Homo sapiens: one gene and its partners. The protein of the gene in region 1 purifies or fractionates together with the protein of each later gene. This does not show direct contact. Each region holds a gene or a part of one and is shown in the gene's direction. Other genes may lie near its edges. The genes, in order: ATP1A1, UQCRC2, CAD and VDAC3.

Evidence for each region.
Region 2: the proteins of ATP1A1 (region 1) and UQCRC2 purify together in Homo sapiens (affinity purification with mass spectrometry; 2 studies listed by BioGRID, with this or other methods). This does not show direct contact.
Region 3: the proteins of ATP1A1 (region 1) and CAD purify together in Homo sapiens (affinity purification with mass spectrometry; 2 studies listed by BioGRID, with this or other methods). This does not show direct contact.
Region 4: the proteins of ATP1A1 (region 1) and VDAC3 fractionate together in Homo sapiens (co-fractionation; 2 studies listed by BioGRID). This does not show direct contact.

Annotation. Positions count from the first base shown.
Region 1 is NC_000001.11:116,375,529-116,383,551, forward strand, and holds part of ATP1A1 (sodium/potassium-transporting ATPase subunit alpha-1), read left to right. Parts: intron 1-7,841; exon of another isoform or gene 7,842-8,023. UniProt on the Homo sapiens protein: This is the catalytic component of the active enzyme, which catalyzes the hydrolysis of ATP coupled with the exchange of sodium and potassium ions across the plasma membrane.
Region 2 is NC_000016.10:21,969,761-21,977,783, forward strand, and holds part of UQCRC2 (cytochrome b-c1 complex subunit 2, mitochondrial precursor), read left to right. Parts: intron 1-1,764; coding exon 1,765-1,860; intron 1,861-2,162; coding exon 2,163-2,362; intron 2,363-4,135; coding exon 4,136-4,216; intron 4,217-6,406; coding exon 6,407-6,483; intron 6,484-8,023. UniProt on the Homo sapiens protein: Component of the ubiquinol-cytochrome c oxidoreductase, a multisubunit transmembrane complex that is part of the mitochondrial electron transport chain which drives oxidative phosphorylation.
Region 3 is NC_000002.12:27,233,724-27,241,746, forward strand, and holds part of CAD (multifunctional protein CAD), read left to right. Parts: coding exon 1-85; intron 86-284; coding exon 285-503; intron 504-794; coding exon 795-962; intron 963-1,521; coding exon 1,522-1,704; intron 1,705-1,812; coding exon 1,813-1,917; intron 1,918-2,560; coding exon 2,561-2,800; intron 2,801-3,025; coding exon 3,026-3,107; intron 3,108-3,655; coding exon 3,656-3,822; intron 3,823-3,994; coding exon 3,995-4,159; intron 4,160-4,332; coding exon 4,333-4,464; intron 4,465-4,707; coding exon 4,708-4,909; intron 4,910-5,318; coding exon 5,319-5,509; intron 5,510-5,607; coding exon 5,608-5,748; intron 5,749-5,973; coding exon 5,974-6,075; intron 6,076-6,541; coding exon 6,542-6,638; intron 6,639-6,843; coding exon of another isoform or gene 6,844-6,894; intron 6,895-7,187; coding exon 7,188-7,232; intron 7,233-7,334; coding exon 7,335-7,504; intron 7,505-7,598; coding exon 7,599-7,673; intron 7,674-8,023. UniProt on the Homo sapiens protein: Multifunctional protein that encodes the first 3 enzymatic activities of the de novo pyrimidine pathway: carbamoylphosphate synthetase (CPSase; EC 6.3.5.5), aspartate transcarbamylase (ATCase; EC 2.1.3.2) and dihydroorotase (DHOase; EC 3.5.2.3).
Region 4 is NC_000008.11:42,394,369-42,402,391, forward strand, and holds part of VDAC3 (non-selective voltage-gated ion channel VDAC3), read left to right. Parts: intron 1-715; coding exon 716-765; intron 766-2,309; coding exon of another isoform or gene 2,310-2,312; intron 2,313-4,343; coding exon 4,344-4,496; intron 4,497-5,282; coding exon 5,283-5,335; intron 5,336-7,419; coding exon 7,420-7,647; intron 7,648-8,023. UniProt on the Homo sapiens protein: Non-selective voltage-gated ion channel that mediates the transport of anions and cations through the mitochondrion outer membrane and plasma membrane.

The DNA of each region.
Region 1 (8,023 bases):
AAAATGTATAGTGGCTAGCAAACACAAGATTAAATTACAGCTGCGAACACTGGGATGATGAGCTGCTTGGCTGCTGGGTGGTAGTTAGCATTTTGAGTATTCTGATACATTAAACATTAGTTTACTTGTGTGTGTGTTTGTGTGTGTGTTTGTCCTGTGACTTATTGTGAGCGTCCAAATGTTCAGAAGAATATTTCATGTTGGGATTTTTCCACATGGGGATTAAAATGTGGGTGGAGAGTGACTAAAGCCCTGCTGATAATTGGCTAACAAGGAAGCCTGTGCCGGCAGCTAATTTTTAAGGTCATTGTAAATTTCTTCCCCTCCTCTCCTCAGTACCCTTTGTGGCCTAGCTTTTGATGATATTTCAGGTGATTTTATATGTCCTTAAAAGTCTAGTTCCTAAGCATTTGGTAAGAAAATGAAAGAACAGCTCTTGCTGAATCATTCCTGGATGAAATAGGATTTTGTCCCTTTTTTTCTTTCTGGGTTTTATTGCCAGTGACTTGGCTTAAACCGTCAGCTAGGCCTACCACCGGCAACTGTTTCACTCACCAAAGGTACACGCCATAACTGTTTAGAAATGTGGGAAAGTTTGTCTTCTCAAGTGTGTAAAAGATGAGGAGGGGGGGTCTCACCAGGTCTTTCACTGCATTCCGGATTTAGTTTGAATATTATTTACCGAAAAAATAAATCATAGCTTATGAGTAGTGATTTAAGGAAGGGCAGGGAAAAAAGGTTCCAGTGAAGGTGGCAGGGGGGATGCACATGTCAGCAGAAATCCTGGTTGTATGGTAATGTTATCAGCTGCCCTTTTGGAGCTCAGCTTGAAAGTGTGACTAAAGCTCCTCTGGCTGCTATAAAGCTAGTACTTTAGACTTAAAGCATTGTAAGGCAGATGCCTCAGAGTGGAAAGTTGCCCGGGCCTGGCCGGGAGCTAGTGGAGCAAGTTACAGGAAGAACTAGTGCCTAGAGCTGGGGGGTGGAGAGAGCACTTGTGCCTCACCCTTTGCCTGTCAGTTGTTCAGCGTGTAACAGTTCCCTGCTTCTTAGGTTCTTTCTGTACCCTTTTATAAGGGTGTATCCCCTTTTGGTAACTTACTGTTTGTTAATTTGTAGTGTTCCCTGCCAGTAAGCTTGTAACACTCTAGTGACTCACCTTCGGGTGGGAGGGTAGGAAAGGGAGAGGCCTGCCTCCTAAACCTGGGAAGATGGGGAGAGAGTGGTAAACCTGAGAGCCCAAAAAACAAACCAAAACAAAAAAACAAAAAAAAAGATGCCTTTAAAAATTCAGTTAGATGTTTGCCCAGATGAGGGCTAACACTTAAAATATACAGATTCCTGGGAATGTTATTCCTAAATTGCATTCAAAAATAAAAGTGAACTCAACATCTTATAGCACAATAGGCTTGGCACTCATCCATGCTCCATGCCAGTACCCTCAGTCATTGTTTTCGGATTATTTTAGCAACAAATGAACAGATAAGTGACTTTCCATTCAAATCAGGCTATGTTCTTTTAAATATATCTAAACTTAAGAATAAGAAAGGCTTTAACTAAAATAGCTTTGAAGGATTTTGTATGGTAAAGTAAAATTGGTTTCTTCACTTAAAAACAAACAGGTTTAAAAGTAAAATAAAATAAAAGCCCTGAAGCTTCAGTTTCTCATCTGGCTTTTGGATAGAATGCTCATCCTGGGGATCAAGTGAAGTAATCTATGTTCTGTTTATGGAAGGAGTGCTGTGCCAGCCTGAGTTGTGGCTATTGTTATTGGGCTTACATAGGTACAGTAATTAGAGCCAAGAGAAGATCAAATCTTTACAGACTGGGTTTGTTGTTCGTCAGTAAGTCATTAGCCCTTGCAAAATTAGAGAGCAGTTTTTCTTTCACCATGAGAACATATTAAGGTTTGAAAATAATGGGAAATACTGTTAATTGCCCTTCATAGGAAAGTCAAGTAGAGGTGTCAATTGACATTATTGCAACTGTTATCTTCGCTCAACAAGCAAATCTCCTGTTTAATAGCATCTTTCTGTCTACTTTCACTTCTCAGGTGAAGGACTTTGTTCGCGGTTGATGATCATTTTTACGTTTTTGAAGTCTTGCAAAATAAAATGGGCTTTTCGGCCTTCTGTGATGAGAGGGAGCCTGAACATTTGTGCTGTGCTGACTTCTTCTAGCTGCCGAGGGCTCTCTGCCAGCCAACAGGCTAGAAGAAGAAACCCGAGTGTCAGATCAGATGGGCTCACAGTAATCAGAGTGGCTGGGTTTGGACGGCAAAGCACCAGGCAAAATGTTTCCCATCCCTGCCAGAGCTGTCCAATTCTAGATTACACTGAAAGTACATGTCCAGTACATGATAATGTGCAGTAGAGAGAACTGTAAAACCTACTCACTCATTTTAAAACTCTCCATTTATATATTTTGGGGGAGGGATGTGGAACCTAGTCAGGTCTGAACTTTCTCACGTTGCTATGAATTGAGTGTATGAGAGGAAGTGTGTATTCTTTGGCTGGAGTCATAGAGAGACTGTTCTTAGCATATGACTCACCTCATTAGTTGTGCTGAAATCTGTTGTCAGGAATCCACAAGAAGTTCTTCATATTTATTTTGTGTTTCGGATAGCAGATTCTGTTACGAAAGAAGTACCCTTCACCCTACACTTTCTCTTTGGTTTGGTTTTTATTTGCATCCTGAGCAAAGGGATTTTTGATCAATAGACCTCATTCCTTTGTTCCTTTGTGACTTTACAGTGAATCTCTTTATCTGGTTTTAGACCTCACTTACTAGTTCCTTTGTGAGTTATGATGAAATATATCTGCACGTGATCTCTTTCCAGTTTTATTCAAACCCTATTTAGTAATGACTATTGGCTGTCTCAGTGATTTGATAAGTTGATTCATGATAGTTCGTGCTTTGTCCTTGGGACTTGTATTGTTTGGGAGCCTGATAATCAGTGTAAGATTTTGTGACTCAGTGGGCCTTGCTGTGTAGATCGGTGAGCTGTGATTGCTCTTTCTAGTCTGTTACCATGTAGGGGCAGGTCCCTAATGCACTTTGGGGTTATCCTCTTGTGTGTTTCTTTTATCTTCCACATGATGCTTCCATGGCACCATATTTGTTTTATTATTTCAATTCATGTGACATTTCTTTAGGGCCTTGGACAGCCTTTATCCTCTTCAGCCTGGCAGTCATTTTCCTTCCTAGCCTAGGCTTCAGGGTACTAATTGAGGAGTGATCAGGACTTACTGGGAGTTGATCTGGTCCTCTCATAACGCATATGCTGATTATTAATCAGTTGTCTCTAACCAGAGCAATCTGGTAAAATGAAAAAAAGGAGGGTAAGGTGGTCAGCAGAAAGGGGGAGTTAAGGAATAAGTAGAAAGTTTTAACCCTTCATAACCCATGCACCTAATGTAGAGGTAGAATTTTCCATTGAAGAAACTGAAGTTTTTGTCTGATTGTTCTTAATAACTGTAAAAGCAAAAATATATCTAAAGTGCACTGATTCTTTACACCTTTTAGAATTTTTATTTTTTGAATGATCATGGATGTACACTACTGCAGGTAGGGTAGGCTGTCAGGCTCATTAAGAATTGACATGCAGGCAGATTGGGGAGGAAGGTTAAGTCATGTTCTTTTGGGTTGAGGGAACCTGCTGGCTAGAACTGTCGCTGTTCTTTGACCCTTGCTGGCTGCTGGGCTGCCCAAGTTTGGATATACTAAACTGGGCTCACAAAGGGATCTACTGCTTTGGCCTTGGTAAATTATATTCTCCAGGATGCATATTTGGGTGGGCAAGAGAAGGAATATGAAGGCATGGTGGCCCCTCAGGCTCACCTCCTCTGCAGAGAACTGCTGCTCCTGCAGTGATGTGCTGCTGCTGGGGCTGGATAGCAGCCATGGTACTATGACAGTGTCCTCCCTCAACCCCGGCCATCCCTTAGCCCTCCAGTCCCTGGCTAGACAATTCCTTGCACATAAACTAAACTACTTAGTCATTTAGGAGCAAATGGAGATGTAATAAACTGGGCTAGATCATTTCTTGACTGTTATTTTCTTTAAGTTTTCACTGTTAAGATCAAATGAAAAATAATGCCAAAGGAGTTTTTTCTTCAAAGGTTTGAAAAGAATTTTCATAGAAAGCGAAAAATGGCAGTAATGTATATGTTAATTAAGACCAAGTTATAATAATAGCCTTTGTGTAGTGCTTTGAGAATACTTTTACATACACAATTGTGTTGGATGATTTAATAATGTATCGACCAGGAAAATGAGAAAGCACCCCTCCCCCTTACCTTTTACATTGAAGGTAGCCCAGACTTGGCAGCCTCTAGGGAACCAGCAAGGTCAGAGTCCATCACACAACTTTCCTGCTAAAGTGGTATTTGCCAAATCATGTCCAGAGGTGTTGTTTCTACAATCTTCTTGGCAACTCCGAAATGGGCTGCATTTGGGGCACTTCCTTTTGCCATCCTTCTGGCCCTTCTTGCCCGTCAAAAGCTTTTGTCTGTGGGCTTTGGAAATAGTCCAGTTTTTAAGGTGTTTTATTTTTCAGAGTTAATGGTTTCTTGACTAATCAGACTATGAAAATGCCTTCTCTAGGTTCTTTAATAGTTATACCAAGTGTTATTCCCATTTTAGGAATGAAGAAACTAAGGCTGACAGGCAAAGGTCATGTAGCCAGCATGTGGCAACACTAGAATAAATTGGCAGACTCAACACCATTAGCAGACCTGTCTGGAGGGAATGGTGGGTCTTGAACTTTCAAGTACCCTCTAAACTTTTTCAGCAGGAATTTCAGAAGTCTCAAGAATTCTGAGCTCCCTGCTGGCCATGGGACATTGTGCTGATATGGTGGGAAAAATGCAGGTTGAGAAAGCCTTCGCATCCTGCCCTGTTGGAGGCTGGTGTTTGGGATGGGTATGAAGGCCTTTGGCGGTGGCTATAGCTTATGCAGACCTGAAGCAATATACCTCTGGGATGGAAGATCCTGCTTATTTTGGGATAATTTCTAAATCTGTCATATCTATCCCCAACCCTGTCCCCATTAAATGGCTAATTGCCAAAAAAGAGGAAGCAACATCTTCAGCTCTAGCAAGTCTCGGGGATGTCTCACTCATTGTGAGGACTGTGAGGATTCGGTATATATTTTTAAGTGAGTGAACCTTGTTACATGTTTTAACCTTGGTTCCTCCTGTCAAGAATTTTATCTTCTCATGTCTTGGGCACCTTTTCCCTCTACCCAGATCAAATAGCAAAATGCTTAGTTAATCTTTGAGAGGATAGAATCCATGGGAAGCACAGGATGAAATGATGACGCTGTGCTAAGCTGTGTCACCGTGGGTAAGCCCCTGCCCTTGCTGTGACTTTCCACTTCCTAAATTAGAATGGAAGGGGGAAAAAAAAAAACCATAACCCAACTTCATTTTTATGAGTGGCCCTTTAGAAAATAGTGTAATCCGTTGAGTTTCCATTGTACCTTTCCTCAGAGATGCTCAAAGGGGCGGGGGTGCCCTTACATGGAACATGATGAGAGTGAGGATTAATCACTCCCAGTCCTCTGGGAGGGGGGAAGTGACCTGAACTTTCTAATTGAAAAAGTAGGAAGTGTGTGCCCAATGCCCAGATGAGTGGGAAGATTACTGTAGTTGATTGAGGAAATGCCGTATTTATCATTCACCCTTCCCATGACCTTTGTTTTTCCCTAATGCCTTAAAAAATAATAAGGAAACATTGTCCTACCTGATTCTACCACTGTTCATCTCACGCAGTGTGCACTCCCTGACTCTGAATTTTGCAGCTTTGAGACTGAGGTAATTGAGACTGATAGGGATTTAAGGATATTTGGTTCCCACAAGAATAAGCTAATATTAAGTTATTATTTTACTTGTGGAGAAGAACTAAATTGTATAAGCTGCCTGGTTCTTCTAGACACACATTGCCTAGTGAAAAAATTAAAATTTTGAAGAAAAAGCAGTTTTACTTGTTAATACTTGCCATGTGTCTCACCCACAAATAGCCTCATTTAAAACTTTGCCTTACCTAGCATGAATGGATAAAGAAAAAGGAGAGTTATTAGGGAATCTAAATTCCCAACTAACTTTAGCACTGATAGTGGTGAAGCTATGGGCAAGACATTTATTTTGTAAGTGGGGGTAAAACTTTGGAACGTGTTCAAAGCCTAGCTGCTCTAGTAATCCTCTCTCCTCTTCTGGAGTGGAAGATATTGGAAGTCTGAGAATAAGCAAAGCATGCAGATTATGAAGCTGAGGGGTTATAACTATTTCATTTATTGAAATATATTTCAATGATATTCAACTTGCTCAGAGAGAATCCGTGAGCTGTATTTTAAAAATCAATACAGGCTGGGCACGGTGGCTCACGCCTGTAATCCCAGCACTTTGGGAGGCCGAGGTGGGTGGATCATGAGGTAAGGAGTTCAAGACCAGCCTGGCCAAGATGGTGAAACCCCGTCTCTACTAAAAATACAAAAATTAGCCAGGCGTGGTGGCGAGCGCCTATAATCCCAGCTACTCAGGAGGCTGAAGCAGGGAATTGCTTGAACCCTTGGGCGGAGGTTGCAGTGAGCTTAGATTGCGCCACTGCACTCCAGCCTGGGCGACAGAGTGAGACTCCATCCCCAAAAAAAAGAAAATTAATACAAAGTGGTCACATAAATCTTTTAGAGATCCTTAGTCAATGTCTTTAAAATGTTTTTTAAGTGTTGTGCTTTCTCATTAAAGGTATGATATACCTTTAATTAAAGCTAAAGATATACCACTTTAGCTGTGGTTCCTTTCTGGTAGATGACCTGCCTTTTCCTTTTTGTTTTATTTGTCCACTTGTATGTGTTACTATTTTTCATTTAAACTCTGGCACCAAGAGCTGTACCGAAAGAGGCACCAACAAATGTGGTTGCTCCATAATGGAGAGAATGTCAAGAATGTTGACTATCTTTAGACCTGCTTCATTAATAGATAAGATAGAAACTAAAGAACCCACCCAGTTGGAAGAAGTTATTAGTCAAGTAGTGCTGCACACGTGACCACAGAAGTTAAAAAGGTAAATAATGTGTCTCTACATGTGGCCCACTCCAGTGAATTTGGAGAAGGATTTCTCCTTGGAGTCTTAAGAGGATATTTTTAAATTTAAGTGAACAATGTATTTTATTTGCAACTATTAGTTATGACTGAAACACACATAATACGTTTTGATTTTCTTTTTTCATTTCAGCACAGTGAAATTATAATCTGGACACGAGTTCCTAATTATTGCTTTAGTAGCTGGTAATGCACTTAGGAAAGTTAGAAATGAGTAAAGGAGAACCACAAAATAATAGTAATAGCACCATATGTCATGCATTTTAAGAAAATTGCTAATGTCTACTTTTTGGCCTTAAGTTGTAGTTGTGGGAGGCTGCTTCAGGGGGAGGTGTCTGGAACAAGGGGCTCTTCTGCTCCGCTAAGCTTTGGAGCACCAAGTTCAGGCTTTGTGTAGATAAGCTCAAGGATTTTTCAACAGGGGTGGGGGAGTGGAACAATCTAAATTTAAACTATAGAATCAACATTTTCTTTAAAAATTGTTCCAGTTTTCAAGAGGCGTAGGTGGATCCTGTGAATTATGTGATAATGCACACGCTTTTCCTACATCCTGCTTATGTCAAAACATTTCCAGAGACTTTCATTTTGGAGGTTTTATTTTCAGGCTACAGAATGGGCTGGGCGCTCCCTTTTTTATCTCTTATGCAAAGAATTTTAAGGAGTCTTAGGCTGACTTTTTAATATGGGAAGCTGGTAAAGGTCAGTGTTCTTATGTGAGCACTAAAGATATTTAAATTTGATATGTAATAATGTCTTTGCAAAGCAAAGAATATAAACAGTATAAAAGTACTAGCATTTAGATGTATTGTATCATTTAATCCTTAAAAACATGAAATGAGGTTGGCACTATTCTTTATCTCCACGCTGTGGAAGAGGAAATTGAAATGTAGAAGTTAGTAACTTGCCTAAGGATACACTGC
Region 2 (8,023 bases), on another chromosome or scaffold:
ACCTAATTTCAGGGTGTGTTCATCATCCCCCCAAAAGCCCCATACCCATTAGCAGTCACTCCCCATTCTCATCTTCCCCCTGCCTGTGGCATCCACTAATCTACTTTGTTTTTGTTTTTTTTTTTAAAGAGATGGAGGTCTCATTCTGTTGCCCAAGCTGGAGCACAGTGGCACAATCATAGCTCACTGCCTTGAACTCCTAGGCTCAGGTGATCCTCCCACCTCAGCCTCCTAAGTAGCAATAATCTACTTTGTCTCTATAGATTTGACTATTCTGGACATTTCCTATAAATGGAGTCATACGATATGTGGCCTTTTGTAACTGGCTTTTCTTACTTAGCATAATGTTTTCAAGGTCCGTCCATATTGTAGCATGTGTCAATTCAATGTCTTATTCCCTTTTATGGCTCAAGAATACTCCATTACCACATTTTGTTTATTCATTGATTGGCATTTGGGTTGTTTCTACCTTTTGGCTGTCGTAAATATAAACATTCACGTGTACATTTTTCTTAGGAAACCTGTTTTTAGTTCTTTTGGTTATGTCTAAGAACAGAATTGCCAGGACATATGGTAACTCTGTTTAACCATTTGGGGAACTGCCAGACTGTTTTCCAAAGTAGCTGCACCATTTTACATTCCCACCAGCAATGCACAAAGGTTTTGATTTCTCCACATCCTCACCAACACTTATCGTCTGTCTTTCTGATTATGAACAACCTACTGGGTGGGAAGTGGTCATTGTAGTTTTGATTTGTATTTCCCTAATGACAAATGACATTGAACATATTTTCATGTGCTTTTTGTCCATTTGTATAACTTTTTTTGTTTGTTTGTTTTTTTGAGACAGAGGCTTGCTCTGTTGCCCAGGCTGGAGTGCAGTGGCGCAATCTCAGCTCACTGCAACCTCCACTTCCCAGGTTCAAGCAATTCTCCGGCCTCAGCCTCCCGAGTAGCTGGGATTACAGGTGCATGCCACCATTCCTGGCTAATTTTTGTAATTTTAATAGAGATGGGGTTTCACCATGTTGGCTGGACTGGTCTCGAACTCCTGAGCTCAGGTGATCCACTTGCCTCGGCCTCCCAAACTGTTGGGATTACAGATGTGAGCCACCGTGCCCAGTCAACTTTGGAGAAATGTCTATTCAAGTCTTTGCCCATTTTTAAGTTTTTTTTTTTAATTGTTGAGTTGTAAAGGTTCTTTATATATTTTGGTTACTCAAGCTGTTAGCAGATATATTATCTGCAAATATTTTCCTGCATTTCATGGGTCCTCTTTTTACTTTCTTGATACAGTGTTCTTTGATGGACAATGCAATGTTGTTTTAAGAGCTAACTATTAGAAACATGCTAGCGTCCATTAGGAGGGGATTGATCAAATAAATGGTGGTAGAGCCATAGAAAGGGATTCTTTATAACCATTAAATATTTGATGTAGACTACTCACTTAGAAATTTGTAAATTATGAAAGATAAGTTAGAAACAATATCAATAGAATGATACCATTTTAGAAATAAATTGAAGATAATATTAACTACACAGAAAATTCTAGATGAATAGTAATACTAAGTATATAGTAAATAGTTTAGTAATAGTAAACTGTAATTGGGTATCTCTGGGAGAGTGGCATTATGGCAGGAAGACTCTTATTTATTTTGTAGTGTTAGGATTTTACAATCGTATTTTTAAAACAAGGAAAAAATATTTTACGATTGTGTTTTAGTAATTGTGGTTCTAGCTTTGTTTTTGCTTCTGTTGAAACAGGTGTGAGTCATCCTGTTCTAAAGCAAGTTGCTGAACAGTTTCTCAACATGAGGGGTGGGCTTGGTTTATCTGGTGCAAAGGCCAACTACCGTGGAGGTAAGCATTTCATTCTATTAGGGTTAATTTATCAGAAGGGCGTTTCCCCACTAGAATAGCATATTGAGGTGGAATAGGCCTGAATATTTACTACTGAACAGTCTCGGCATAGAATTGGATGGCTTGGGTGTTGTATTTTGAGCATATGTTTTGTGTGTGTTTGGGGACAGGATGGCATGGGGAAAGCACCGAGCTGCAGAAAAGACTCGTGGGTTAATACTGTGTTGTAGGAAATACTGGAGAATGAAACCAATGGTGAACAAGCCATTTTCTTCTTCCCTCTATCCTTAATCTGGCCCCAGGTGAAATCCGAGAACAGAATGGAGACAGTCTTGTCCATGCTGCTTTTGTAGCAGAAAGTGCTGTCGCGGGAAGTGCAGAGGCAAATGCATTTAGTGTTCTTCAGCATGTCCTCGGTGCTGGGCCACATGTCAAGAGGGGCAGCAACACCACCAGCCATCTGCACCAGGCTGTTGCCAAGGCAACTCAGCAGCCATTTGATGTGAGTCTGAACAGTTGGTATCTCTCTTTTTGCTTTCAAAGGCTCAGTATTTAAGATATAATTCTGATAATCTACTCTTAAAATGTAAGACAAACACACAGAAAATCTTTGTACAATTGAAGAGATAGCCAGGCTTGATTTTAGTATCTTTGAAGGCCTATCAAAAACTCACTGGCTTTTCCACTTTGTCTATTACTTGTCATTAGTAATATAAAAAGAGGAATTGAATGCTTAGAAATAAAGGGAATCCACACATCCGTTCCCTTTAGAATAAAGTTGTAGATATTAAACTTTCCCCTAGATTCTAACTAGTCTTTTTTTCTAGATTTTCTTCTGTCCGCTTCTGTTCTTTTGGTTACTTCCTGAATCTCACTATTTGTTTTCCAACCAAGTGGACAAGATGAACACCAAGAAATTGTTTACAGACTCACTCATTCAGCTTGAGATTAAATTTGAAAAGAAAAATGAGAGGCTGGGCACAGTGGCTCACAACTAAAATCCCAGCACTCTGAGAGGCCGAGGTGGGCGGATCACTGGAGGTCAGGAGTTCGAGACCAGCCTGGCCAACGTGGTGAAACCCCCATCTCTCCTAATCCAATGAAGTAATTTAATAGAAATTCCTAGTTCAGAACTCAGCCAGAAATTTAGAGTATAAATAGGATGGCCTCAGAATTATAATTAAAGAAATTGAAGTCCAGGCCAGGCACAGTGGCTCACGCCTGTAATCCCAGCACTTTGGGAGGCCAAGTTGGGCGGATCACAAGGTCAGGAGATCAAGACCATCCTGGCTAACACAGTGAAACCCTGTCTCTACTAAAAATACAAAAATTGTCTGGGCGTGGTGGCGCACGCCTGTAGTCCCAGCTACTTGGGAGGCTGAGGCAGAAGAATCACTTGAACCCAGGAGGCGGAGGATTCAGTAAGCTGAGATCGTGCCACTGCACTCCAGCCTGGGTGACAGAGCAAGACTCTGTCTCAAAAATATATATAAATAAATAAATAAAAGAAATTGAAGTGCCTTCTTATGCTTTACGTGGACTGAGCCAATGGTTCTCCAAGTTTATTGTACATAAGAATTACCTGGAACACTTGTTAAAAATCTGGGCTTCCAGGCTGCATCCACAGGGACCTGAGTCAGTAGGTCCATTTTGGGAATCTGAAAGTTTGTATTTTTAATAAGAACTTAGATAATTTTTATGTAAATGGTCCACATAAACACTGCAAATCGGGTTCACCCTAGAGAGCTAAAAGCTCTGCTCAAACTAGATAACAATATCCCTGTTATTCAGAGGTTAAACTCTTGATAGCTTGGACATCTGGATAATGACCACTAAGCAGAAATTTTTCTCTAACTTTCTGACATGAGTGTATAAGAGAAATGAAAGTAAATTGGTGAAAAAGTCCCTACCAACAGCAGAGAGAAGAAACCTGGTCTGCCTAATGCCAAAGCCTATCTATATTATAATAATAATGTTTGCAGATTAGTGTTTGCATAAACCTTTAATCATCTAAAGCAGGTTAGAAAATACCCAGCATAAAGGAAAGGGAGCAGTCATTTTAGAAATATTTAAATGAAAAAACAAAGCCGTGATAGTTCTGAAAGAGGTAACCTATTTACAGAATACTTCAGTTCGTGACAGAACTGGCTAAGTAAAATATTAATCTATTTTGTTTATACCGTGAAGGTCCAAGTTTTTTCTAGGCAAACTTAAAGAAATCGTGCCCTGTTTTACTTGGTAGAATATCATACAGTAAAGTCTCATTATCTTTCAGGTTTCTGCATTTAATGCCAGTTACTCAGATTCTGGACTCTTTGGGATTTATACTATCTCCCAGGCCACAGCTGCTGGAGATGTAAGTTGCAAACTCACCAAACTTCTTTCATGAACAAGTTATTTCTCCCCCCCGCCATAAACATGTTTTCGGTTAAAATATGGAATGTTTGAATGCAGTGCAATGACTTATCAGAGCTCTGTATAGTATGATGTCATTGAAGCATTATCTGCTATAGGGAAATTTACACATGTATACTAATGCTTCCAGGAAAGAGGAGAGAATTGCCTCCTTCATGTTTTGGTTCTGGTTGGACAAGTTGCATTGAGTTGGCTCTGAGACATCTAAATTGAGAACCCAGGAGAGGGGAAGACCAGGAGGTTTATTTGCAAGTCTTCAGTGTAGAGATTGTGTTGAAATCAGGGATATGTGTGAATGATTGTAGGAAAAGAAAACTAAAGCTCAATTTCTGGGAAACAACACCATTTAAGGAGCAAGTGGCTAAGAAAAATGGCCCAGGTAAACAGAAAGAAAAAGAGAAGCTGATATATTTGAAGGATAGGAAAGAGAGTATGTTTAACACCATTTTGACCCACAGTGAAATAACATTCATTACCACTGAGAAGTCTGGTAGTTTCAGCAAGCTAGGACATCATGGGTGATCTTAACAGTTTTGACTAGAGTAGTGGAAATTGGGTAAAATGTGTAGTGATTAAGGAATGAATGACAAGTAAGAAATGAGAGGTTGGTGTGGGCTAGTGGAGCTTAGACATTCAAGGAGCAAGTTGTTTTAGGAGAGTTTACACTGAGAGATTAGGTTGAAAGAGACATACTGAGCAAAAAGATCGGAGCAGATATCGGAGATAGAAAATTATAAATGGCTCAAGTCTGAGAAAGGAATACTTGGGATCCAGCACACAAGTGGACCTTTTAGCCTTACAGACAGGCTAATATTGGAAGATATTGGGAAGATGGGGAAGTACCTCCTCAGTGAGACAGGAGGCTAAGTCATGTTTTGACAGACGTGAGAGGAAAGTTTAAAGAAAGTAGTGAAGTTTGGGACAGACAAATAGTGAGGTACACAAAAAGTGGGTATTCGCTGTAGTGTAGATGTATCCTTGAAATCAGCGACCACAAATTCATAGTACAGTCAGTCAGCACTGTCATGTAATTTTTCTTCAGTTGCATTCAGAAGCCTAATAGAGAAATGGAGGAGGTAGGTATTAGGGTTAATCCCAGGTTGGAATCCTGCAAAGTGGGCAGGTGAGAAGTATGAGGAGATAGCAAGGGAGTTGGGAGCATTGGCAAGAGTGATTAAAAGGATGATTCAGGGATCTAGGCTCAATAGAGAAGTGAAGCCAGAGGGGGCCTGATAAATTGAAAGACTGGACAAGTCAAGGAACTAGAGATCTTGATAAAGTGGAAGAATAAGGATAGTGAGATTAAAGACTGAGGTCGGGGTCTTAGAATTGAGGGCTTCAGAGGTATGCAAATTTAGGCTATGATCAGGTCTGGGGTGTGGCTCTGAAAATGGGCAGCTAAAATGAAGGGGAAACAGAGGTCCTAGAATTTAGGTGATCAGAGGGAAAAATAAGTAGCAGACCCAGCCAGCACTGGGATGGAGAAAATCATGGTCAGATTTATTTATTTATTCAACAAATATTTACCAAGTACCCACATCCCCGGAACTTTATTCTTTCTTTCTTTTTTTAAATACCATACAAGGATTCAGATTCCTTCTTGACCCTGGCTTACAAAGTATGGACAAGCCTTACAAATTGGCTGTGTATGGATTACTACTCTCTTCTTAGTGAATAGTAAGAGATAGCAGTATTAATGGCATGACACTGCAAGAGTCTGGGGAAGTTTTAAAGGTGCTTATTCTTTATGGGTGATTAGAAATCCATGTGTTTGGCCGGGTGTGGTGGCTCACACCTATAATCCCAACACTTTGGGAGGTTAAGGTGGGAGGATCACTTGAGCCCACACATCTCTACAAAAAAAGCTAAAAAATTAGCCAGGCCTGGTAGCATGCACCTGTAGTCCCAGCTTCTTGGGAGGCTGGGGCAGGAGGATTGTGTATAAACAGCTGCTTTATGAACATAGGAAGAATAAGGAACCCATAGTGATGACAGCATTCCGCATGGACACTGTGCTGTTTGTCTGGAACTAACCTTCCATCTGTGTTTTTGCCTCAGTAAAGAAGTGTGTCAGTGCTGCAGGAGACTCTGGTACTGACCACAGATGACCAACTTTTCTTATCTGTCCTAGGTTATCAAGGCTGCCTATAATCAAGTAAAAACAATAGCTCAAGGAAACCTTTCCAACACAGATGTCCAAGCTGCCAAGTAAGTCTCAGTATTAACTGTGTTTTATGTTTTTGTTATTTGAAAGTTGTATTCTTTTCAGATTATAACAATATTACAATCTATGCTCATAAGGACTGAGAAGTACAGAAAAGCGTAAAAAGGGAAACATACCCATATCCTACCACCTAAAGATATAATTGTTAACATTTTGGCCAGGCACAGTGGCTCACTAATCCCAGCACTTTGGGAGGCCAAGGCAGGTGGTTCATTTGAGACCAGGAGTTTGAGACCAGCTTGGGCAACATAGCAAGACCTCGTCTCCACCAAAATTAGAGAATAATTGTTAACATTTTTCTTAGTTTATTGATCATGCATTTTTAAACATAATTGTTAATATTGTATATATAGATGCTGCTTGACTTACACTGGGGTTACGTCCTGAGAAATGCGCATATCGAAAATGCATTTAATACCCTAATAACCCAGTCATCCAGCCAAACAAACATAAGTCAAACCATCATAAGTTAAGTTAGGGACCATCTGTATACTTTTTTATCTTATTTAAATAGCATCCTTATTATAGAAGTTTGAAAATTACAAATAAAAGACAAAAATGATCTCTGATTTCCCTAGCAATGATTCTGTTTCCATTGATTCAAATTACTAAAAATTTAAACAATATTCATTGGTGTGTCAAAATACACTTGTGCATTTTCTGCAGTTATAAAGATATCTTTGGGCTTAAAATATTTTTGTGTTTCGTATTACTTTCTTGGTGTAGATTCCCAACTAAGTTAAGAGTTATAAACATAACGAAAGACTCCATGTTAGAGTGTGTGTATGTGTGTATGTTTAAATAATACATTTGACTAGGCGCAGTTGCTCATACCTGTAATCCCAGGACTTTGGGAGGCTGGGGCAGGAGGATCACTTGAGGCCAGGAGTTCAACCAGCCTGGGTAATGTGGCAAGACACTGTCTTTACAAAAAGATATTTAAAACTAGCCAGGTGTGGTAGTGTGTGCCTGTAGCCTCAGCTACTCAGGAGGCTGAAGAGGGGGGATTGCTTGAGCCCACGAGTTTGAGGCTGCAGTGAACTAAGATCACGCCATTGCACACTAGCCTGGGCAACAGAGCAAGACCCTGTCTCTTAAAAAAAAAAAATGTATTTCTAAGTCACAAATCTAAAGAGATTGTACCAGTTTATAATCATACCACCAGTATATAAGAGTACCTATTCTACAATAGTTTCTTTCTTCATAACTAATTTATACCCAAAAAAGATCTGATTTTGTTTTGTTTTATAAGAAAGACTAAAATACTTGTCTGCTATTTGGCAATTTATAAATCCCCACTGTCCAGATTGAAAGTGCTATCAACACTCCTAATTCATTAGTAGTTCGAGGGTTTCTCTAAAAGAGACAGACTTGGGACAAAGTTGGAAATCAACCTGCATTTTCATACAGCCGCTTAAGACATTTAAGTTTGACTCCATCTACTTAGAACAATTCAAAATGTGAATCTTGCAACTCCAGTGGTCGTTATGATCATTTAGTATTGCCCACAGGGGAAGCAGAATT
Region 3 (8,023 bases), on another chromosome or scaffold:
AGACCTGGAGCGCTTCCTGAGCAGCGCAGCAGCCGTCTCCAAAGAGCATCCCGTGGTCATCTCCAAGTTCATCCAGGAGGCTAAGGTGGGAGGCTGCAGACAGTGAAGTCTCTGAGGGCATGCTGCCAGCCCTGGAGGAGACTTCCTTCTCTGGTCCAGCAGAATCATAGGCACCAGGGCTGGGAACAGTGGGCTATGTGGGGCTCGTTAAAGGAAGAGACAATCCTAGAGTAAGTGAGAGAAGAAAGTGGCCCTATGTCCCACTGTCTGTGTCCCCCCGCTAGGAGATTGACGTGGATGCCGTGGCCTCTGATGGTGTGGTGGCAGCCATCGCCATCTCTGAGCATGTGGAGAATGCAGGTGTGCATTCAGGTGATGCGACGCTGGTGACCCCCCCACAAGATATCACTGCCAAAACCCTGGAGCGGATCAAAGCCATTGTGCATGCTGTGGGCCAGGAGCTACAGGTCACAGGACCCTTCAATCTGCAGCTCATTGCCAAGGTAATAAGGCTAAAGGAAAGAACTAAAGGGCCACAGCTCTTGCATGTTCTGTGCTGGCCACAGTGCCATGAAGCCCTGCACTGTCTCCTGCCTTCATCCAAGTAGGCAGGGAAGCTGGAGGGAAAGGGCTGTAGCTAGAGCTCATGGTGTTGGGGCTTATGACAGTCAGTGACCCTGAACCCTGCTCAGTCTGATCCCCCAGAGCTGAGGACGGAGAGGAAGAGTCTAGGCCTATAGATAGTGTCAGCAAGGCCAACCTGCAGAAGGCCTGACCAGTCTTCTCTGCCCCAGGATGACCAGCTGAAAGTTATTGAATGCAACGTACGTGTCTCTCGCTCCTTCCCCTTCGTTTCCAAGACACTGGGTGTGGACCTAGTAGCCTTGGCCACGCGGGTCATCATGGGGGAAGAAGTGGAACCTGTGGGGCTAATGACTGGTTCTGGAGTCGTGGGAGTAAAGGTAAGGAATATCGAAACCCTTGGGGTTAGCAGAAAAATAGCGGGAGAGAGTTCACTCACCACACAGAGTTGTCAGTATGTAAACCAGGCACTGACTGCAAGGCATTGCCGGATCGTGGGGGTAATGAGGTGGTCATTGTCCCTTAAGAGCTTACTTTATGGTAATGGGAGGGAAGAGAAGTTGGATCCCCAAAAAAGCTTTGGTATAGAACAGTCCGTGGTAAAACTACATATTCGACCTGTAAACAGAATGCTGCAGGAGTTCAAGAGACAGGAGGTGCTGCTTCCAAAAGGGGTGATCTGGGAAGGCTTGAGCGAAGGGGTGCTATTTGAATTGAGTTTTGAAGGATGGTTAAGGTTTTTTATTTGCAAGGGCACATCCTAAGCAGAAGCTGAGGGATGACCCCAAGTACGTTTGGAAAGCAGGAGGGCACACAGAGAGGGCAGGCTGACCCTGCCATTCAGATGGGATCAAGCACAGGGTACTGTGTCCGTCTCTGCTGGTGAGGGAGGAGGTCCTCTCACACCTTGGCCCTCTCTCTTCCCTCCCGCCCCTTTAGGTGCCTCAGTTCTCCTTCTCCCGCTTGGCGGGTGCTGACGTGGTGTTGGGTGTGGAAATGACCAGTACTGGGGAGGTGGCCGGCTTTGGGGAGAGCCGCTGTGAGGCATACCTCAAGGCCATGCTAAGCACTGGCTTTAAGATCCCCAAGAAGAATATCCTGCTGACCATTGGCAGCTATAAGGTATCAGAATCCAGGAGGGCTTCCCGAGGGCCGTGGCTCCCTGGGCCAGGGCTGACCTTGAAATGGAAGACAGGAAGAAAACAATTTCATCCTTCTGTTTGGTTTCAGAACAAAAGCGAGCTGCTCCCAACTGTGCGGCTACTGGAGAGCCTGGGCTACAGCCTCTATGCCAGTCTCGGCACAGCTGACTTCTACACTGAGCATGGCGTCAAGGTGCAGGAACTCTGGCAACCTACCCCACTGCTGCCCTTCCCCAAGGGGGTGAAAATACTGCACCAAAGAATTATCTGGGCTGGGCACGGTGGCATATACCTGTAGTCCCAGATACTCAGGAGGCTAAGGCAGGAGAATCTCTTGAGCCCAGGAGGTAGAGGCTGCAGTGAGCTGCGAGTGTGCAGTGAGTGCACCACTGCACTCCAGCTTGGGAAACAGTGAGATGCTGTCTCAAAAAAAAAAAAAACAAAGAATTATCTCCTATTCCCCTGCTTTTATTATTACCATTATACTAGTAAGCTATATTCCATGCAGAAAGCAGAATACACAGGAAGCAAAGAGAAAAGTCTCTTAAAATCTCTGTACCACTGTTCTGATATTTTTCCTTCCAGGATTTTCTCTGTGTACATGTGTGTGAGCTCATACTGCACCTAGTCCTTGGTAACCCATCTTACTTAGTGTAGATATCTTTCCTGCCAAGAAATACACTTTGCCAGTATCAAATAGAGGCAGCCCTCAGTGCCCACCCTATGGGTCCTCAGTCTCCTCATCATGGGCTCCTGGGCCAGCTCCTCTCCCTTAAGGCTAGCCTTCCTGACCGCTGCCAGACAGCTTGGCCCTGACCTTGACTCCGGGTTGGCAGGTAACAGCTGTGGACTGGCACTTTGAGGAGGCTGTGGATGGTGAGTGCCCACCACAGCGGAGCATCCTGGAGCAGCTAGCTGAGAAAAACTTTGAGCTGGTGATTAACCTGTCAATGCGTGGAGCTGGGGGCCGGCGTCTCTCTTCCTTTGTCACCAAGGGCTACCGCACCCGACGCTTGGCCGCTGACTTCTCCGTGCCCCTAATCATCGATATCAAGTGCACCAAACTCTTTGTGGAGGTAACTGAGACCCATGTGCTGGGAGGGAGACTGCCAGTGTTGATGGGAAGAAGAAAGAGGGAGGAGTGAGTATGGAACAGCCATGCTAGTAATAAAGCTTTGTGGCTACAGAGGGAGAGATGGTGGGTATAGAGTGTGCAGAGCCTGGTTTATGGGAAAACCACATCTCTCCCTACAACTCCCAGGATCACCCTTCCCTTAAAGCTGACTGCTTTCCACTTGCAGGCCCTAGGCCAGATCGGGCCAGCCCCTCCTTTGAAGGTGCATGTTGACTGTATGACCTCCCAAAAGCTTGTGCGACTGCCGGGTAAGTCTTTGGGGAGAACTTGGCTTCTGAACACTGGCAGCCCCTGGCATAGAGACCTGCAGTGTGGTGAAGGATGGCTGGGGGGCCCACTCTTTGTCCTGGACTGCACAGACTGTGAAGACCCCAGAATGTTTCTCACTCTTTCATTCCTTAATCCACAGTGTCCACAGTGGCCTTGTCTGAGGAATTTTTTTTTTTTTTTTTTTTTTGAGACAGAGTCTTACTCCATCGCCCAGGTTGGAGTGCAGTGGTGTGTGATATCGGCTCACTGCAACCTCCGCCTCCCAGGTTCAAGCGATTTTCCTGCCTCAGCCTCCCAAGTAGCTGGGATTACAGGTGTGTGCTACCACACCAGGCTAATTTTTGTGTTTTTAGTAGAGACGGGGTTTCACCATGTTGGTCAGGTTGGTCTCGAACTCCTGATCTCAGGTGATCTGCCCACCTCGGCCTCCCAAAGTGCTAGGATTACAGGCGTGAGCCACCATGTCCAGCTCACCCTTCCTATTTCTGAATCTTCCTGTAATCTTGCTGCTTCCATTTTCTCCCAGGATTGATTGATGTCCATGTGCACCTGCGGGAACCAGGTGGGACACATAAGGAGGACTTTGCTTCAGGCACAGCCGCTGCCCTGGCTGGGGGTATCACCATGGTGTGTGCCATGCCTAATACCCGGCCCCCCATCATTGACGCCCCTGCTCTGGCCCTGGCCCAGAAGGTGAGCCACTGCACTCTTCCTGGTATTGGAGACCCATATGCCCCTACCAGCCACCCTTGCTTCCCTGAGCCCTTTTCCTTCTGCCCCGCCCTATGGGCCCAGGCCACTGGTGCCAGGCTAGCCTGTGTGGGCATGGGTGCCAGTGAGCCTTACCTCTGTGTATCCTCTCCAGCTGGCAGAGGCTGGCGCCCGGTGCGACTTTGCGCTATTCCTTGGGGCCTCGTCTGAAAATGCAGGAACCTTGGGCACCGTGGCCGGGTCTGCAGCCGGGCTGAAGCTTTACCTCAATGAGACCTTCTCTGAGCTGCGGCTGGACAGCGTGGTCCAGTGGATGGAGGTAGGGAGTGTGCATGTGGCAGGAGGCCACCACCCAGTGTCTCCTGGCTTGTGGGCCCCTGCCTAAGTGGGCTGGTAGCAGTGAGGATTCAGGGGAGCTCCTGGGGACTCTGGGCTCTGATGAGCACAGTCAGAGATTCTGCACACTCCTTCATCAGTTCTTTCTGCTCCCAGCATTTCGAGACATGGCCCTCCCACCTCCCCATTGTGGCTCACGCAGAGCAGCAAACCGTGGCTGCTGTCCTCATGGTGGCTCAGCTCACTCAGCGCTCAGTGCACATATGTCACGTGGCACGGAAGGAGGAGGTAAGAGTACACCTGAGATCCTGCTGTCCCTGTTGCTTTCCCAGTAACACCAAAGGTCAGGGTAGTCCTTAGGGGCAGGAGACAGCAGGAGGAGAGTCTGGAGACAGCAGGAGGAGGGTCTCGAGCCAGCACCCTTGCAGGTCTACATCATCATTTTTTGAGCAGGGATGTTGGCCATTGGGACTTTGTGTAGGGCAAGGCATATGGGTGGTGCCTCTTCTGGATCTTCCCATTGTTCCCCAGATCCTGCTAATTAAAGCTGCAAAGGCACGGGGCTTGCCAGTGACCTGCGAGGTGGCTCCCCACCACCTGTTCCTAAGCCATGATGACCTGGAGCGCCTGGGGCCTGGGAAGGGGGAGGTCCGGCCTGAGCTTGGCTCCCGCCAGGATGTGGAAGCCCTGTGGGAGAACATGGCTGTCATCGACTGCTTTGCCTCAGACCATGGTGAGAGAATCCAGCATGTACCTCCTCTGCCCAGTGGGGCTTGTGGGACAGCCCTAGCAAGAAAATGGGAAGCAGGCCAGGCCTCAGGACTCTACTAGGACAGGGTCTTGATCCGTATGGGACCCTAGCCTCTAGGGTACCTGGTCTGTGATAGGTGCCTGATAAATACTTGTTGAAAGAATGAATGAGCCAGTGAGTAGAACTGCAAGTGAAAGAATACATGGGTAAAAGTGTGGGCTCCAGAAGATGGCAGCAGTCCTGTTGCCCTTGTTTCTAGTTCCCAGAAAAAATGAGCATTGGGAGTGGTAGTGAGCATAAGGAGGTTGTTGGAAGTGCAGTCCTGGGGTGTGAGTGACTTCCTAGACATGGAGGTGATTGGTCCTGAGGGTAATGGCTTTCTTTCTCCCAGCTCCCCATACCTTGGAGGAGAAGTGTGGGTCCAGGCCCCCACCTGGGTTCCCAGGGTTAGAGACCATGCTGCCACTACTCCTGACGGCTGTAAGCGAGGGCCGGCTCAGCCTGGACGACCTGCTGCAGCGATTGCACCACAATCCTCGGCGCATCTTTCACCTGCCCCCGCAGGAGGACACCTATGTGGAGGTGTGGGGATGAGGCCCAGAGCAGGAGGGGGGCTCTCCAGCCCTAGGATATGTTCTCTGGGGATCCTTTCCCTAGCATAACCCATGTCCTCTGGGCAGGTGGATCTGGAGCATGAGTGGACAATTCCCAGCCACATGCCCTTCTCCAAGGCCCACTGGACACCTTTTGAAGGGCAGAAAGTGAAGGGCACCGTCCGCCGTGTGGTCCTGCGAGGGGAGGTTGCCTATATCGATGGGCAGGTACGCAAGTAGCCCCTGCCTGATCTCAGTAGTGCCCTCTTCTGCACCACGTTCATTTCTTCCCTTCCCAGCACATCTACACTGTCCCACTATGTGCACCACTGCCCTGGACCAGGGGTTGGGGGCACAGCTCCCCCAAGGTGCTTTTTGTCCTTGCTGACATCTACCCCTTTAGGACCTGAGTTCTCTCTGCTCCCTCCTGAGTGCCCTGCCTTCTGCCTGCAGGTTCTGGTACCCCCGGGCTATGGACAGGATGTACGGAAGTGGCCACAGGGGGCTGTTCCTCAGCTCCCACCCTCAGCCCCTGCCACTAGTGAGATGACCACGGTATCCACACTACTGGGCTAGGGGGCTGGGAGGTGTTAGTCTCAGGGCAGGATGAACAGCTTGAACATTTTCATTGGTGGTTCAGGAACAATTGGGGTTTTCTTGAGGGACTGAATTTGAAGTGGGGTTGGGTCAATTATTTTTTTAAAATGCTGGGCCAGGCCAGATGTGGTGGCTCACACTTGTAATCCCAGCACTTTGGGAGGCCAAGGCAGGCGGATCATCTGAGGTCAGGAGTTTAAGACCAGCCTAGCCAACATGGTGAAACCCCATCTCTACTAAAAATAAAAAAATTAGCCAGGCGTGGTGGTGCACATCTGTAATCCCAGCTACTTGGGAGGCTGAGGCAGGAGAATTGCTTGAACCCAGAAGGTCACGCCACTGCACTCCAGCCTGAGCGACAGAACGAGACTCCGTCTCAAAAGAAAAAAAAAAAAACAACTCTGGGCCAACGTTATCCCTCCAGACACCTGAAAGACCCCGCCGTGGCATCCCAGGGCTTCCTGATGGCCGCTTCCATCTGCCGCCCCGAATCCATCGAGCCTCCGACCCAGGTTTGCCAGGTAAGAGTGGGGTTCCTGTGACTCAGAGACTGTGTAGGGACAGGATCCACTTCTTCCCAGTGCCTCGCCTTTCTCTACTTACATGTCCTCCTCTCCATCCCTTTATCCTCGTCTGATCTGCCGTGCCATCCTTTGCCTAAACAAGTCTCCCCGGTGTGAGTAGACATCTCACAGCTTCTCACATGCCCTTTTTTGTTGTGGGCAGCTGTGTTCCTCCGCCCAGGAGCTGGGATCCCACGGGGCAGCAGAGCGTGGGGTAAATCCAGGTTGTTGGTTGGTGTGAGTCTGGCCGTTCCTCTTGCCTAGGATGCCTTTGCCAACTGGGAGAGCCCCGGGAGGGCACCACTGCTCCCATACAACACAGCCCCATGGGAAGCCACCTGTCTGTCCCCAGAGCTGCTGCAGTCCCCTGCCCTCCCCTAACCTGCTATATTACTGTGTTGTGAATTGGTTTAACATATACACTGTGATTCAGAGTTCCTGGGAATATGGGGTTTCTTTCCAAACCTCAGCCATAAATGTATATCTGTCCTCTTGTCCTGTTTGCAGCTGAGGAGCCAAAGGAGAAGTCCTCTCGGAAGGTAGCCGAGCCAGGTGAGACTCCACCCTGACACACACTCACCTCGGGGACCTCTGATCTGGCCTTGGTAGGAGGAACCCTCTGACCAGCCTTTTCTGCCCCATCCCTCACTGCAGAGCTGATGGGAACCCCTGATGGCACCTGCTACCCTCCACCACCAGTACCGAGACAGGCATCTCCCCAGAACCTGGGGACCCCTGGCTTGCTGCACCCCCAGACCTCACCCCTGCTGCACTCATTAGTGGGCCAACATATCCTGTCCGTCCAGCAGTTCACCAAGGATCAGGTGCCTGGGGCAGGGAGGATGGGACCACCCAGAGCTTTGAGGATTTGGAAAGCTGGGGCTAGGACCTTTCTAGCTAACTTGGGCTCTTTCTTAGATGTCTCACCTGTTCAATGTGGCACACACACTGCGTATGATGGTGCAGAAGGAGCGGAGCCTCGACATCCTGAAGGTCAGGATCAGGGCCGGGGGTAGGGTCCAGGCCATCGCCTGCCCTTGGGCCGCATCAGCGCAGGGCCGCGCAGTGGTCAGAGTGGGTCTTCCTCCCCCTGCCATCCCGTCCCCTTATGCTAGTCCATCCCTCTGCTGCTGTAGATCTTCCCCCACGTTTTCCCTCCCCAAAGCAGGATTTAGCTGGCTGGGGAGGCCCTGAGCATGAGACCATCGCCCCACTAGTGGGGTCTTCTGGTCTGGGCTGCTGCAATCATGGGAGAGAGCTAGGGTGTGTCCTCCTTTCCCAGCTCGTTCAGACACTTAATGATGGGTGGTTTTCTGGAGGCAGAGCCTTTAGCTCAGAGTGAC
Region 4 (8,023 bases), on another chromosome or scaffold:
AAGTCAGCATTATTCCACTTCACAAGATTTAAGGGGATAACTATTAACAGGCTATTAGACCTCATTCTTTAGAGGCAGAACCCCTTACAAGCATTAAAAGCAATTATATACATATACAGATGCATATACATGTCCATATTTAATGTTATCTGGAATGTAGAATAATATATATAACATTTATGTCTCTTTGTCTGGCCCTGAGGACAATTAAATTAGGGGGTAGAACTTTTCCTCCCTCCAAACAGTGGCATTGTTTTTATGAAAGTGACAACATAACTTTTGACTTCTTTGGAGTAATGTATATTCTGATCCTAAATAAATATTTTTTAGGTTTTAAAATTTAACTTAAATTTATGTGCTGTACATATTTGATTTTTTCTTATTAACTAGTAATGTTAACTATATTTTAAACGATATATATAGCAGCACACTATTTTCAGCAATTTTGATTCTTGGAATAGTGCATATTCCTTTCATTTATTTTTTTCTTTAACTTACATTTTAAAAGTATATCTTTATTCATTTTGAGTGCTTGAAAATTATACTGCATTTATTTGGTTATAATTCAGTTTCTTGAGGAACTCTCACCCAATGAAAATACTATGCATTTTTCATATGGAAGGTACTATAGGCTATTTCATAATTTCTGAGTTGCAAAAACTAGTGAATGTCACATTTTGTACATTACTGTGTTTTTGTGTGTGTGTGTGTATAGGCTTTGGCATGGTCAAGATAGACCTGAAAACCAAGTCTTGTAGTGGAGTGGTGAGTATCTAATATATTTTTAATGAATGTAACATAATTAACTTAAAGGAATCTGTTTAAAATCATGACAGTCTAGTTACTTGAACCAGCACCATGCTGTCTTCCCCACAGCTTTGTCCTCTCAGATTTTAAACAGCATTCTTAGCCAATTAAAATAAACAACCAAGTTGAATTTTTGAAGAGACCTTTTGTGTTTCTCAGAGTATACTACAGCTTTCACTCAGAAGATGTAGAATATATATTTTTTGACCCATGTCATATGTTTATACTTTCATGAATATGTATATGGGCACCAAAAACCTCACTTCCATGATAATGGGTTCATGGAAATTTTATTACCCTTTTACAAAAACAAATTAACTTTACTCTGCCCCTTCATGATTAGTCGAAACAAAATATGTAAATAAAATGTATTTCTGCACGTATGCATGTACATTATTCTACAGTTTTTAACTGATGTTTATAAAGTTTTTTTTATTGGAAGTAAAGACTACAGTAAAGGCTATGTTGGCATATTTTCAAAGTATCATTAACAATAGCTTTTGGCTGGGTGCAGCGGCTCACACCTGTAATCCCAGCACTTTGGGAGGCCGAGGTGGGCGGGTCATGAGGTCAGGAGTTCGAGACCAGCCTGGTCAACATTCTGAAACCCCGTCTCTACTAAAAATATACCAAAAATTAGCTGGGTGTGGTGGCACGCACATAGTCCCAGCTACTCGGGAGGCTGAGGCGGGAGAATCTCTTGAACCTGGGAGGTGGAGGTTTCAGTGAGCCGAGACCAAGCCATTGCACTCCAGCCTGGGTGACAGAGTGAGACTTTGTCTTAAAAAAAAAAAAAAAAAGGCCAGGTGCGGTGGCTCACGCCTGTGATCCCAGCACTTTGGGAGGCCAAGGCGGGCGGATCACGAGGTCAGGAGATTGAGACCATCCTGGCTAATATGGTGAAACCCCGTCTCTACTAAAAATACAAAAAAATTAGCCAGACCTGATGACGGGTGCCTGTAGTCCTGGCTACTTGGGAGGCTGAGGCAGGAGAATGGCATGAACCCAGGAGGCAGAGGTTGCAGTGAGCAGAGATCGTGCCACTGTACTCCATCCAGCCTGGGCAACAGTGCAAGACTCCGTCTCAGAAAAAATTGCTTTTATTTAATAAATCTCAGCAAGTAGGTTAAGTTTTAATTTACCTTACTCTGATTTCTCCTCATTGGCTGCATCGTTTTTGGTATTTATCCATTCAAACCCATGAAAATTTTATTTCTGAATGTATAATTAGAAGGACAAAGACATGTGGAATTCTAATGATACTGTGTATAATCATGGTTTGTGACCATCATTCTTTCCCTGGGTTTCTCTGGAGTAAATAAATATATATGCACCTCCCTTACTAAGATGGGCACGCTGTGTATATAGTTCTGTTAAAATAGAAGAATCATTCTCATTTTGTGTAGGTTCCAGAATTTGCTCATTAGGTTTGTGTTGCAAAAATTATCAACTAAAATTTTATCTCCCTTTCATGCTGCTGTTGTGTGGTAATATTCATTCAGATGGTAAGAAAAAAAAGCTTATTCGTATGCTTGTTTTTATGGCTGCTTTTGGTTTCTGGTATTGATTTAGGATAAATTTCAATCATTGTTCCAAATTTCTTAGATTGTGTCTTGATATTTTTCTCATATGCTATCTACTTAACAGTAACATTTTTGTTTGTTTTGTTGCTTACTAAGCATTTAATGTAGAGCTATATGCATGTTATATGCATGTTATAAATGTGTTTTGCACTTGTTTGACCAAATTATGAAATTAGACACAAACTGAACTGTGAATCGTGAGCCTGGAACTCAACTTAGAACAATTCTAGCCTTTTTTTCTGAGATTTGTACCTGTGGCATTTTAGATTCGTGACAGACCTTCAAACTAAGAATTGATGCTGACAAGGGAGAAATGTAGACTACCCCTCTACCTTAATTTTGTGCATAAGGTTTTTCTAGCACCAAAATTAAGATTTGCATTTGTTATACTTGTCAAGTTTGTGAAAAGTAAATGTAAAAAATAAAACACTAGATAGTTGGATCTACTAAAAGAAAAATGATTGTCACGTTAAAATAATTATGTGAACAGTTAAACATGATTAACATGTTATCATTTTTTTTTTACTAAGGCCTTCCCCTAAATGTGCAGCATGATACTCTCTTTGAAACCATTCTGTGTGGTTTGATAAACAGAACATAACTTCCCAGTTGTCTCATCTGCCTGTAGAACTAGAGTTAGGGGACAGGGCATTTGTTAAGGAGAGGATTCATGTTGCAGGCAGTGAAAAAGACTGGTCAGGGTTGGCAGCATCTCATTACTGTTGGCAGGATTTCAGAAATGCTCCCTAAAACAGGACCAATCAGAATGTTTTTTCTTGACAGTTCATAGATTGTCAGTGACAGGTGCTGTCTGCTTTCCCCAGAAGGAGGTCCATTTCTAATTGCTTATTGTCATATGACTTAAAGGGCACTGAACTAGGGCAAAGGATGTATTTTATTTTATTTTATTTTTTTGAGACAGAGTCTCATTCATAGTAACTGTTTGATAGAAAGCACTCTTAAAGGTAGACAGGATAGAAAGGGGGAAAGAAGGATAAATTATAGCATTCTACTTTATTTTGAAAAATGGGTAGTACTTTCAAATATTGAAATTGTCTAAGCAGAAGTTTTGCAGTTTTGCACACAAAAGCATTAAAGTTTTCACAGCAGTGTGACTGTACTTAATGCCACTTCACTGTACACTTAAAACATTATTAAAATGGTAAAATGTATGTTACATGTATTTACCACAATAAAAAAAAACATTTTTAAAAGGAAGTAGTAAAGTGTTGACCCTATTAAAAAGGAGGAGGGCAGTATTTTGGGATTTTTAAGGACCTTGAAATTAACTGATAGTTTGAAACATATAGCAGAGAACTGATAATCTTTTTTTAGGTCATGAAAGTAAAATGTTTAAGATACAATATTTTTGGTCTTTTTAGTAAAGGCATTTGTTTTCAGTAAAGATACTTCTTTTTTAAAGGAGAGAATTTAGGATTACCATTTGGTAAGAGAGTATATGGAACAAGAGATATTAATAAGAGAAGTAGAGTAATGGAAAGATCTGAAACTGGTATTGAGCTGTCTCACTCCGTTGCCCAGGCTAGGGTGAAGTGGCATGATCTCGGCTCACTGCAACCTCTGCCTCCTGGGCTCAGGCTGGGACTACAGTCACGTGCCATCATGCCTGGCTAATTTTTTGTATTTTTTGTAGAGATGGGGTTTTGCCATGTTGCGCAGGCTGGTCTTGAGCTCCTGGACTCAAGGGATCCACCCGCCTTGGCCTCGTAACATGCTGGGATTACAGGCATGAGCCACTGCGCCTGGCAGAACTGGTTAAAATATTTAGGGACTGGAAAAGCAAGGGGAAAGGAGGAAAGAAGTTGCTCTAGAGTAGGGCTGTGGCAAGCAGTAAATGGTATTGTTTTTGATACATTGAACACTGCTTTCCAAAGTGAATATTTTCTATTTGATGAGCTAATTTTAAAGTAATTATTTTTTCTTGCTTACCAGGAATTTTCTACTTCTGGTCATGCTTACACTGATACAGGGAAAGCATCAGGCAACCTAGAAACCAAATATAAGGTCTGTAACTATGGACTTACCTTCACCCAGAAATGGAACACAGACAATACTCTAGGGACAGAAATCTCTTGGGAGAATAAGGTAAGAGAACGCATTAGAAGTTATTCATAGGTTCAATTTATCTTGTAGATTGAATGATGAACATACCCCAAATATAATCAAAAGAGATCTTACAACCTATCTAGTAGCCATATTTTTTCTCTGCATGTGGCCTTTTTTGATGTCTTATGTTTCTAGAAAATAAGGCTTTGTTTGTGAGTACTCTAATTACTATATTACATCTTTGTTCTGACTGGTTCTCTGTTACACAGCTAAGCTTCTCCTGGGTAGAACAAACTATTTGCGGAAATTTGGTTTAGTTTTGTAATTGTTGAAAAATTGGCTTGACAGAAAAATTTTTCTAAAATGTTCTCATGTTTTCAAGGAGAAAATCTATTAGATATAGTCAAGTGCCCACTATGTACAGGGCACTGTTTTTGATAGAGATACCATGTATAGATAATGTACATGCAAAACTGAGTAAAATGACTTAGCCTGCTTGTTAAATGTCAGGTTATCTCATTACTGCTCTTTCAAGAGAGTATCAAGATGATTTTGTTGTATGGGAATTCTGTTTGGTTTTGAACTGTATTTTATGTAACTTGCTAAAATAGGATTTGCCCCATTTTTTAGTGGGAGAACCATGATGAAGGCTGGGGTGAGGGGACAGGAGGATGGAGAGCTTACTTATTACATAATTTAATATTTTGCTTTCTTGAATGACTCCTTTTTTTTGTTAAAGAACTCAGGAAACTTTAGAATTGGTTTCTTGAGTTGGATAAATGATTGAAAATTACTAATTATTTATTTTAAATCTTTGTTTTTCAGTTGGCTGAAGGGTTGAAACTGACTCTTGATACCATATTTGTACCGAACACAGGGTAATTATTCAAATCCCATTTCCTGAAACGTTTTTGGAGCCTGAAAGGGTAGAGAGCTTTAGAATAAGGAGATATAGTGCAAAGTTCAGAGGCAGGAAGAACTCAGAAGGTTGCTATAAGGAATATTGGAGACCTTGTATAGGTAATACAGATAAAGGAAGATCCCTCCCCACCAAGGCAGGATGAACAATTTGAAAACTGAATAGATGAGCAAAAATGTATAAATGTATTTGAGAGAGACACATGGTAGAAAAAATTTAGGAGCTAGAAGAGTCTTGAGACCATAGATGAATCTTAAGCAATTCTGAAGATTGATGGACATGGTATTCTGCTGAGAAAGTTAATTCCTTTTGGCTGGGCGTGGTGGCTCACGCCTGTAATCCTAGCACTTTGGGAGGCCGAGATGGGCGGATCATGAGGTCCGGAGATGGAAACCATCCTGGCTAACACGGTGAAACCCCATCTCTACTAAAAAATACAAAAAATTAGCCAGGCATGGTGGTGGGCGCCTGTAGTCCCAGCTACTCAGGAGGCTGAGGCAGGAGAATGGCATGAACCCAGGAGGCGGAGCTTGCAGTGAGCCGAGATGCACTCCAGCCTGGGCAACAGAGCGAGACTCTGTCTCAAAAAAAAAAAAAAAAGTTAATTCCTTTTTTTTCCCCCTCACCCTCTCTTATGGTGCTGAAAAGTTAATTTCTTAAGAAGGTGATCTGGCTCTCAGATGCTATAATGATTAGTTCTGCTGCCTACTTGATTTCTTAGCCTCTGTAAATCCCCCAACTTCTTGACCTCAATTTCCTCGTGAAAAAAAGGGGGATTGTGTCATTTCCTATCTGCCTAATGTGGGTCCATGCTATCTGAAGGACGGAGGTTGCTAGATGAATGCAAAGTGACATTTGTCTCAGCCGTAACAACAGGTGTGTTCTTTTTGCCACACACTTCAGTTATCTTTAGGACAAATATTCTTTTCTTTTTTTTTTTTTTTTTTTTTTTTGAGATGGAGTCTTGCTGGAGTATAGTGGCACTATCTCAGCTCACTGCAAACTCTGCCTCCTGGGTTCAAGCAATTCTCCTGCCTCAGCCTCCCAAATAGCTGGGACTACAGGCATGCACCACCACGCCCAGCTAATTTTTGTATTTTTAGTAGAGACGGAGTTTTACCACGTTGGGCAGGATGGTCTCTGTCTTGACCTCGTGTTCCGCCTGGCTCGGCCTCCCAAAATGCTGGGCTTACAGGCATGAGCCACTGTGCCCGGCCAGGACAAATATTCCTACAAGAGGCTTGATTGGAATAGGGTTATTAAGAACTAATTTCATTTTTTCAGTATTGTCCTTCAAAAAAGCATGCTTCTCTCCATGATAGGTTAATAATGTATATTGGGGATTAATTCTTTGTGGCATTTGGCATTTGGAAACATTTAAAGAGATTTGGCTTCTTGTACGTCTGTATACATACACCTTCAGATTATTAATTTGGCACTGAAATATCTTATTCATTCTTTTTTTTTCTTTTGAGACGAGTCTCGCTCTGTCGCCAGGCTGGAGTACAGTGGCATGATCTTGGCTCACTGCAACCTCTGCCTCCCAGGTTCAAGTGATTCTCCTGCCTCAGCCTCCCAAGTAGCTGGGACTACAGGCGTGTGCCACCACGCCCAGCTAATTTTTGTATTTTTAGTAGAAACGGGGTTTCACCATGTTGGCCAGGATGGTCTCAATCTCCTGGCCTCGTCATCCGCCCACCTTGGCCTCCCAAAGTGCTGGGATTACAGGTGTGAGCCACCACACCCAGCCTCTTATTCATTCTTATACTTTTGTTCATGCTTTTATGAAATAAATCATGAAGTATCCTATCATTTGAACTTATAATGAGTAATAGATGATAGTAGTCTATACATGTCTAATCCTAACAAAATTATATTTGTAGAACTAGGTCATTTGAAATGTTTTTACTATATATGTGGCATGTACCAAAATAATATTTACATTGGGAGATGAGAGAGAGGATCTTACTCTAAAAATTCCTAGACAGTAGTAAGAACTCATGTTGTTTTCATCATTTGCTTTTGTTTGTTTGTTTATTGCAGAAAGAAGAGTGGGAAATTGAAGGCCTCCTATAAACGGGATTGTTTTAGTGTTGGCAGTAATGTTGATATAGATTTTTCTGGACCAACCATCTATGGCTGGGCTGTGTTGGCCTTCGAAGGGTGGCTTGCTGGCTATCAGATGAGTTTTGACACAGCCAAATCCAAACTGTCACAGAATAATTTCGCCCTGGGTTACAAGGCTGCGGACTTCCAGCTGCACACACATGTGTGAGTGTTTATAATTTATTCCTTAGTATCAGTGCAGTTGCCCAAAATATTGTAGCCATTAGCATGCTGAGAAGTGATGGTACTCAGATTTAGCATGCCTTGGTGAATATCCATCCTTGCGGTGCTATCCTCATAGCAAAACCTTGCCAGGAGGCTGGTGCACGTGGTGTGCAGGCTGTGCTGCTGGTGGTCACTGGCCCCTCAGCCTGCACCCCAAACTTGAGGAAGCTCCAGCCTCTGTAGAAGAACCACTGGGATAGAGGGAGCCCAGAGCATGGCTTACCTCATGGTAAGATGACCCTTTGGAGATGTTACTGCTTCCTCTGCTGCCCTCTCATCTTGACAGTATCTGGAAGCAGGTCTGTTTTGGTCACCA